2 separate regions of the Homo sapiens genome follow, and region 2 is reported to be linked to region 1. The links are microRNA targets in miRTarBase. Many come from high-throughput screens and were not tested one by one. Region 1 holds a microRNA gene; the other region holds the end of a gene's coding sequence.
What was found. The annotated mature microRNA hsa-miR-8062 reads CAGUGAUUUGAGGAUUAUUGC and lies in region 1 at 1,455-1,475, shown strand. An mRNA with a match to its seed (bases 2 to 7 or 8) in the 3' UTR can be bound and repressed. Matches are read on the target gene's strand: a 7mer-m8 pairs with bases 2 to 8, a 7mer-A1 pairs with bases 2 to 7 and ends in A, and an 8mer does both.

Region 2: miRTarBase lists LAX1 as a target of hsa-miR-8062. Seed matches in the 3' UTR shown: 7mer-m8 at 1,700-1,706.

Annotation. Positions count from the first base shown.
Region 1 is chr20:7,370,164-7,374,569 of GRCh38, forward strand. MIR8062 (microRNA 8062) reads left to right here and starts at 1,445; the gene lies at 1,445-1,529.
Region 2 is chr1:203,773,588-203,777,993 of GRCh38, reverse strand. It overlaps LAX1 (lymphocyte transmembrane adaptor 1), which reads right to left. Exons shown (of 5, transcript NM_017773.4): 5 at 1,622-4,119. The coding sequence ends at 3,313. Among named protein-coding and RNA genes, the nearest start is that of LAX1, 11 kb to the right of the region's middle.

The DNA of each region.
Region 1 (4,406 bases):
GTTTGAATTCCTGTAGATTCTGAATATTAGACTTTGTCAGATGAATAGATAGCAAAGATTTTCTCACATTTCCCCTTACTGGGTATAAACCCAAAGGAATATAAATCTTTCCATTATAAAGACACATGCACACATATGTTCATTGCAGCACTATTCACAATAGCAAACACATAAAATCAACCCAAATGCTCATCAGTGATAGACTGGATAAAGAAAATATGGTACATTTACTCCATGGAATACAATGCAGCCATAAAAAGGAATGAGATCCTGTGTTTTGCAAGGACATGGGCAGAGCTGAAGCCATTATCCTTAGCAAACTAATGCAGAAACAGAAAACCAAACACAGCATGTCCTCACTGATAAGTGGGAGATGAACAATGTGAGCACATAGACACAGGGAGGTGAACAACACACACTGGGGCCTTTTGGGGGTGTGGAGGGAGGGAGTGCATCAGAAGAAAAAGCTAATGAATGCTGGGCTTAATACCTAGGTGATGGGTTGATAGGTGCAGCAAATCACTATGGAACATGTTTACCTATGTAACAAACTTGCACATCCTTCACATGTACACCGGAACTTAAAAAAAAAGAAGATATACTAGTTAAGGTGTATCCTTAGGCATTAGAAGAACTTGGAGATTGAGGTGCACTACTGGTATTCAGTGAGTAGGACCTAGAGTTGTAGATGTTCTACAATGTGCGGAATAGTCTCACACAATGAAGAATGAACCTGGTCTTATGTGACATTCATGTGGGTGAAAAACATATTTATATATTAAGCCTAAAACTTAAATTCATTTTACATATAAATACAAAGTATCTCTTTTACACTGTATTAATAGCAACTACCAGACACATTGAGAAAATATATTCTTTATTTTGTTTGGCAATTTCTCAATAATTTTTTGCTATTTCAGAAAATCACATCACAGAAGGCAACCCTAGTCATTATTTTTAGTAGCTACACAACATATCTACATCTGTAACTGACATTTAAGGTGATCCTATGAATGAGTATAAGCATGACAACTTAATTATATCTTCCAATGTAGTTATGTCCAAACATTGACATGTTGAAATACTTATTTTATCATAAATTATTTTCCTCTTAATTTCATTTGCAATTTATTTTTACAATATAATTAGACCATTATATTGACTTAAAGATAAGTATGTGGGTAGTTTATATTATCTATGGATTTCATTTTAGAGTAGTAAAGGCTGTGTTATAAAATATCTTATATAATTAGTGGCCTGATAGGGCTGTGGAGCAGGGCTCCAAGGCAGTGCTATTTCAATGAGGTCTCAGAATTGGCAGCAGAGAGCTTGTTAAAAATGCAGATTCTTGGACTCCACCCCAGACCAACAGAATCACACTCTCTCATGCAGCATCCCAGTGATATGTGATTTATCAAGCCTTCCAGGTGATTCTTCTGCTGCTCTTATGCATGCAGTGATTTGAGGATTATTGCTCACGGTAAGAAAAACATGAGTAATATATTGTCTTCAAAGAACCTATGCTCTAACAGGAGATGTAAAGATATCTTTCTACTTGAGTTGGATGAGTAAGAAAATCACAGGGATCATGATCACCAAAAACACAATAGAAATTTGGCAATAACCTAATTCCAGAGACTATACACTAAACATGACATATCAATAGCAAAAAGCTGGATTCAGAGACAAGTTTAAACCACACAACTCTGATTAAAATGAACAGGACTCATGCTGTTAAGACTCTGTACAGTTCTAAAAACATACACAGCAGAGCACTTAAGCCGTTCCAGAACACATCATTCTCTACTTTTTAACAGGGAGCAAACAGCTGGGATGTGTTACTAGTAAGCCATGTTTTCATAGGCTTTCTGGTTTTCTTTAGCCAAACTCTTACAACAGTCTTCGGACAAATTATTGCCTGAAGCTATAGGAAGTCTTTAGTTGTCTTGGAGAACTGCAGAGTAAGTCAGGTCTCAAAGACAACATGCCCACAAGGACTTGCCTTGCCACCTTTGGCCTTTCCACCTTGGAAATGCCTTCACAACCAATTACACTATTCTCAAATGTCTGTTTATTTTTAATGACTCTAGTTAAATGTTAAGAGTTATTCCGATGACCTAGTTCAAGACTCTAAGAAAAAAAGCTTAGACAAATCAATAGACTAAACTGGGAGGCTTGCAAAGAAATGAACAAGAATCTAATCAATATCTTAACAAAAGACCAACAAATGGTTGAATTCTTGTAGGCCTGCATGGTTCTGAGGCCGACCTTGCTTTTCAAAAGACATTAAAGAGTTCAATATGGAAGCAGTGTTGTGAGAAATCACTTTCTCTTTCTAGATACTCTCATGTCCACTTTTGCTCTGGGAAATGTGTGTGTGTGTGTGTGTGCGTGTGTCTTGTTTTTCTAAATTGTCAGTACAGTGAAATAGTTGTCATGGGTTCACCAAAACAATTTTCAGAGATTTTCTTTCTGAATTTTGTTGGGAAAAGTCCTGAAACATTCCCTCCACTTCCACACACAAAAAGGCAGCCTCCCTAAGGTTCTTCCTTAGGTTCCCCCGGCACCTACATGGGTATCGGCAAACATTATTGAATCTCAACAAGCACATTTATTTCAGATTCTACACATGAAGGGTTTTCAAAATACTCTTCCGTACCCATGGTTCATAAGCCCATGGTCCAGAACATCTAGTGTCTATTTTTATAGCCCACAGGCAATTGCTACAGCTGTATAACCCTATTGAGAATGAGAAAGGGAGAATGTCACTAATTCTTTTGATATCTTAGGATGCAAATGTCTATGTGCTAATGTCATCTGCATAAAAGTATATACTCCCCACTTCACTTTGGCTGAAGGCAACTACACATTAATGGTTACATCCCCTTTTGTACTAAGAGCTACTCAAGGAAACATTTAGCAACAGGTGGTCCTAGCTGCACTTAAACCTTTCCCCTAGGGAACAACACACGCTTATACTGTACATTCCCAGGCCAGTAAACCCATGACAAAGTTATAACTCCCAGTAGTCAGCTCATTTAGGTTTATGCAATAGAATCCATCCTCTTTTTTGGGAATGGAAAATGTATTCCTTTCTGAAAAAGAGTACAGTATAATAGAAGGCATGGGAAAAAATCATTCAAAATTTACAGATTTGGGAGATAATAAAAATTCTACCAATGATCAACTTTGGAATTTACAGTAATAACTTAAGATTTCTGCTCATTAACAGTGTCAGCATGTATAAAAATTAAGAGGTTTAAGAATCTTAGAAGCCCTGTGAAAGGAATTTAGAAAGTGCAAAGATACATGCATTTGAATAAAAATTTGGCGCTTGTCAGACCATGTTTTTTTTATTGATTTTTACAGGGTAGATATGATCAAAATATTAAGAGTCATGGGATAAAATTTCTCTAAGGAAACTTTATCACCATAATAATCATTGAGAACTTCTATAAGTCAACATACTGTGTAAGGCTTTTGAAATACGTAAATAGATAATACGTAAACCCTGAACAGCATACTGTTTCATGGCTTTTTTTTTTTTTTTTTGAGACATGGTCTCAATCTGTTGCCCAGACTGGAGTGCAATGGTGCTTACTGCAACCTCTGCCTCCCAGGCTTAAGCAATTCTCCTGCCTCAGCCTCCTAAGTAGCTGGGATTACAGGCGCGCACCACTGCGCCCGGCTAATTTTTGTATTTTTAGTAGAGACGGGGTTTCACCATGTTGGCCAGGATGATCTTGAACTCCTGAACTCAAATGATCCACCCCCTTGGCCTACCAAAGTACTGGGACTATAGGAATGAACCACTGTGCCAGGCCACAGATGACTCTTATTTGCCGAATTCAGTACATCACTTAGGAGCACCTGTATCCTTTGAGAGTTTATTACAAATGCAGCATCTCAGGCCTCATCCAAGTCCTCTGCAACCAAAATGTGCATTTTGACAAGATCATGATTTATATATATGTTAAAGGTTGAGAAGTTCTGGTCTGTAACACTCAATATTTCCACTTCAACCTTCTAAACTAAAGAATTGTGTGACTTGACCTGTCTTCTAAAGAAGCCTTCACTTTAGTGTCATTACCTTTGTCTTCATAAAATATTCTGTTTTTTTAATAATCATTTAGAAAAATCCAATAAAACAAAACTACAGTCATTTGTTGCTAAATGAGGGGGATAATACCTCCTGAGGAATGTGCAGTTGGGTAATTTTTGCCCTTGTATGAACATCCTAAAGTGTACTTACACAAATCTAGATGTACTTCTAGGCTATATGGTATAGTCTCTTGCTCCTAAGCCATAAACGTGTATAGCATGTTTCTGTACTGAATACTGTAGGCAACTGTAACACAATGGTAAGTATTTGTGTATCTAAGCATATCTAAACATAGGTAATGTTC
Region 2 (4,406 bases), not on the chromosome of region 1:
AGCTGGAACTACAGGCAGGCACCACCATGTCTAGCTAATTTTTGTATTTTTTGTAGAGATGGGTTTTACCATGTTGCCCAGGCTGGTCTTGAACCCCTGGGCTGAAGTCATCTGCCTGCCGTGGCCTCCCACAGAGCTGGGATTATAGGCGTGAGCCACTGTACCTGGCCTTGGTTATCTTTATATCTACTTTTTCATCCTATCCTAATCTTGAAAAAATTTCCTCATATTTAGCATCATCGAGTGTATGAGATAAGACAATTAGTCAACATTTCCTGGCAACTAATGTGAGAAAACAAAACCATAAATGGAAAGAAAAAAATTAACATTCAATAAAAAATTTTTCATTGATTCATTTGCAAAAATTTCTTAAAACAAGAAATAAACAGAAAAGTTACGTATCTAAATATGAGACAATCTACAGTGCATTAATCATTCTTGATTTGGGAGAGTATGTAAGTGTGACTGGCTGATTGAGGTATCCAGCTTGTTGGTGTGTAAACAAGCAAGAGCTGCCTTAAGGCCCAGTGTGGTGGCTCACGCCTGTAATTCCAGCACTTTGGGAGGCCACAGCAGGTGGATCACCTGAGGTCAGAAGTTCGAGACCAGCCTAACCAACATGGTGAAACCCCATCTCTACTAAAAATACAAAATTACCATGGTAGCAGGCGCCTGTAATCTCAGCTACTTGGGAGGCGAAGGCAGGAGAATTGCTTGAACTTGGGAGGTGGAGGTTGCAGTGAGCCAAGATCATGCCATTGCACTCCAGCCTGGGTGACAAGACCAAAGCTCCATCTCAAAAAATAAAAAAGAGCTGGCTTAGTTTATTCCAGGACCTGCCCCCAACTGATACGTTGTCCCTCCCACCCTTACTGGGTGACAGATGTCTTCATAACTTCTAATTTAGATCTCATAACTTTTCATCCCCTCTTAGTTATGAGAATTCTGTCATGCCAATGTTTAAGATTTTGTTCAGTCCATTTAAGCTTCATTCTCACATATGATACAAACTTCTCCTTACTTGACTATGGGATTGTCCTTTCGATGCGCTTGCTGCTGCCCTGGCTAACCCTGCATGGTCATCAGTACCAGACTGTCATGGTTCCCTCTGTGTGGCATGAATTTAAATGCTGGCCACTTGGTGGAGTGATGGTCTGTTTTCACTCACGACACTTCTGACACCAGATGTGTGGATTTTCTCCCCCCAACAGCTGACCAATTTTCCAGCTTTCTGGACACCAGTTGGGTGCCCTGCAATTCAATTCTTACACTAACCTGTCTCTCCTTATCTACAATAGATTGACTTATTTAACCCAAATATACATATAAAGTCGTTTTAGAATTGCTAAGCCATGCCTCTGTGAGATACAAATTTACCAACCAGAGTGCAGTTTTTGTATACAGTTCTTTGTGTCCTTATCTACAGTTATAAGTCAAAACATTGTTTTCCAACTTTGTCAGTTCTTTTTTCCCCATCCCTTTCAGTGAGTTGATATCATACATTTATAATACAATTAGATTCATTTGCCACAATTTGCATACCATCCTGGGTTCCCTTGACAGTCTGTTCATTTTTAAAAAATTTGCATACAATAAAAGCCCCTTTGTCTAGTGTACAGTTTTTTTTTTTTTTTTTTTTTTTTGAGACAGAGTCTTTCTCTGTTGCCCAGGCTGGAATGCAGTCCGCCTTCCTGGTTCAAGTGATTCTCCTGCCTCAGCCTCCTAGTAGCTGGGACTACAGGCGCACACCACCATGCCAAGCTAATTTTTGTAGTTTTACAAATATGAGAGACAGGGTTTACAAATTACAAATTAGAGACAGGTTTACAAATGTTAGAGACAGTAGAGACAGGGTTTCACCATGTTGTCCAGGACAGTCTTGATCTCCTGACCTTGTGTTCCCCTGCCTCGGCCCCGCAAAGTGCTGGGATTACGGGTGTGAGCCACCGCGCCTGGCCATGTGTATAGTTCTTGTGTTTGCAAATGGATATTGTCATGTATCCACCACACAGTACCATACAGAACAGCTCCATCAGCCTATTCCCTTTGCAGCCCCTTTGTAGCAAACTTCCCTCCTTTTCTCAAACCTGACAACAACTGATCTGTTCTTCATCCCTATAGTTTTGCCTTTTCCAGAATGTCATATAAATAGAATCGCCCAACATGTAGACTTTTAGGCCTAGCTTCTTTCACTTAGCAAAATGGATTTAAGATATGTCTATATTATTGTGTGAACCAAGAGTTCATTTTTTACTGTTGAGTATGGATAAACTCAAGGAATGGATATCAACAGCTTATCCAATCACCTGTTGAAGGATATCTGGGTTATTTCTAGTTTTTGGTAATTATGAATGAAGCTGCTATAAACAGTCATGTGCGAGTTTTTGTGTGAACATAAGTTTTCAGTTCACTTGCGTCAATTTCTAGTAGTGAAATGGCTGGGCCATATGATAAGTTATGCTTATAAGAAACTGCTGAAAAGTTTTTCAAAGCTGCCCTGACGCTTTGCAATCCCATCAGCCACCAGTGAGAGTTCCTGTTCTTCTTCATCCTTACCTACATTTGGTTGCCCACACTTCTTTTTTGTTTGTTTTTTTTTTTGAGAGGGAGTCTCGCTCTGTCACCAGGCTGGAGTACAGTGGCACAATCTCGGCTTGCTGCAACCTCCACCTCCCGGGTTCAAGCGATTCTCCTGCTTCAGCCTCCTGAGTAGCTGGGATTACAGGGGCACACCACCACGCCTGGCTAATTTTTGTATTTTTAGTAAAGATGGGTCATGTTGGCCAGGCTGGTCTAGAACTCCTGGCACCAAGTGATCTGCCCTCCTCGGCCTACCAAAATGCTGGGATTACAGGCATGAGCCACTGCACCTGGCCTGCCTACACTCTTTAAAATGGAAATTGCCCACCCCACTCCACTCCAACTTCTTCCTTCCTTTTGACCTCTGACTGGATTATACAATAATCTATACTCTTGCTTTGCAGCCTGTTGGTATTAATGAAGGTAATAATCTTAGACTACTGTGCACTACTTTCCTGCTTTCTTCACAGTTCTAGGAAGCAGTTTCAGCAAACATTCTTAGGCTGGTACAGGAGATAACCACACTCTGCTTGAGAAGAATTCCCTTCTGGAATTCCCAAACCTCTGCTTTTGTGTGGCCTCTTAGTTCACTGCTCATCTCAGCCTCTTTTTAATCTAACCAGTGAATCCACTGAAGCACTAAGGTGATCACGGGTCTGCACTAGACTCTGCAGTAGTCAATCCTATGGGATAGACTACTCAATGTGGCTTTATGGCTGGGTACCTGGGTCTTCATTCATCAGGAAGGAGCTGAGTGCCAGGCCCCTGCTCAGAGTCCCTGCCTCCTAACTTGGCAGTTAGCACATTTTCATAGTCACTGGAGTCCTCATTTGACATCTCTTCTCTATGTTTCATCTGACTGTCCTCACTCTGTGTGAATGGCTGAAAGTCTGCATAATCCCCTGAAGCAAGGAATGTCCTTTTGACACATTGGACATGGGTCCCGGGATCATCTGTCTTGTCCTCGACATGACCTATGTTTGAGGATGGCACATCTTTCTCAGCCTGCTGCTGGCTTCCACTGGGATCTGCTGCTGGAACATTTTCATAGTCTCTGCAGCACTGAAAAGCCACCCAGAGCTGCCTTTCCTGGATGGCACTGAGATCCAACCCTGTCATGTTGACATAGTCATTTGAGATCTGAGAAGAACCTTCTCCATTGCTGAGTGAATCACTGTCCTCAGCTCCTGGAGAATACAAACTGGTGCAGTCACCAGCATCTCCACAGCCCTCATCTCTTTCCTCAGTAAACTCCAGCTTCTGGGTACTGGGAAGAACAAAGAGATTTCTGGAAGGGCTTTTGGTAGAAGCTAGAGTCTCAGCAATCTCTTCTGCTGTGGGGACATTGACATAATCATGCGAATCCTCTGAAGAAATGCTTGCGCAGTCTCTGGAAGCTCTGACATTGATGCAGTGTGCCGAGGGAGTGAGGTTCCCACACATCTGGGGGACCATGGCGTTGTCATAGATACCCACCGCGTACTCTGTGGCATGGATGTGGGCTGTATGCTCCTGGAAGGCATTGCCTGCTTGGGAGGGCTATGAAGAAGAAAAGGAAGCCAGTGGTCAGATGCAAGCAGAAATATGGACAAAGCCTTTCTTCTTGGAAAATACCACTGGCATATTCTGAAAAAAAAAAAAAAAAAAAAAAAAAAAAGAAGAGCAACAGTGCAAATGTGATGATAAATCACAACTAGTTTTTGGCCACAGTATGGGAATCAATTGGTGGGGGGGTGCGGGTGGGACGAAAATATTATCAACTGAAGAGCCCACTGAGAGGCAGTACAACATAGTGGCTAAAGGTGAGGCTTAGACTAAAGGTACAA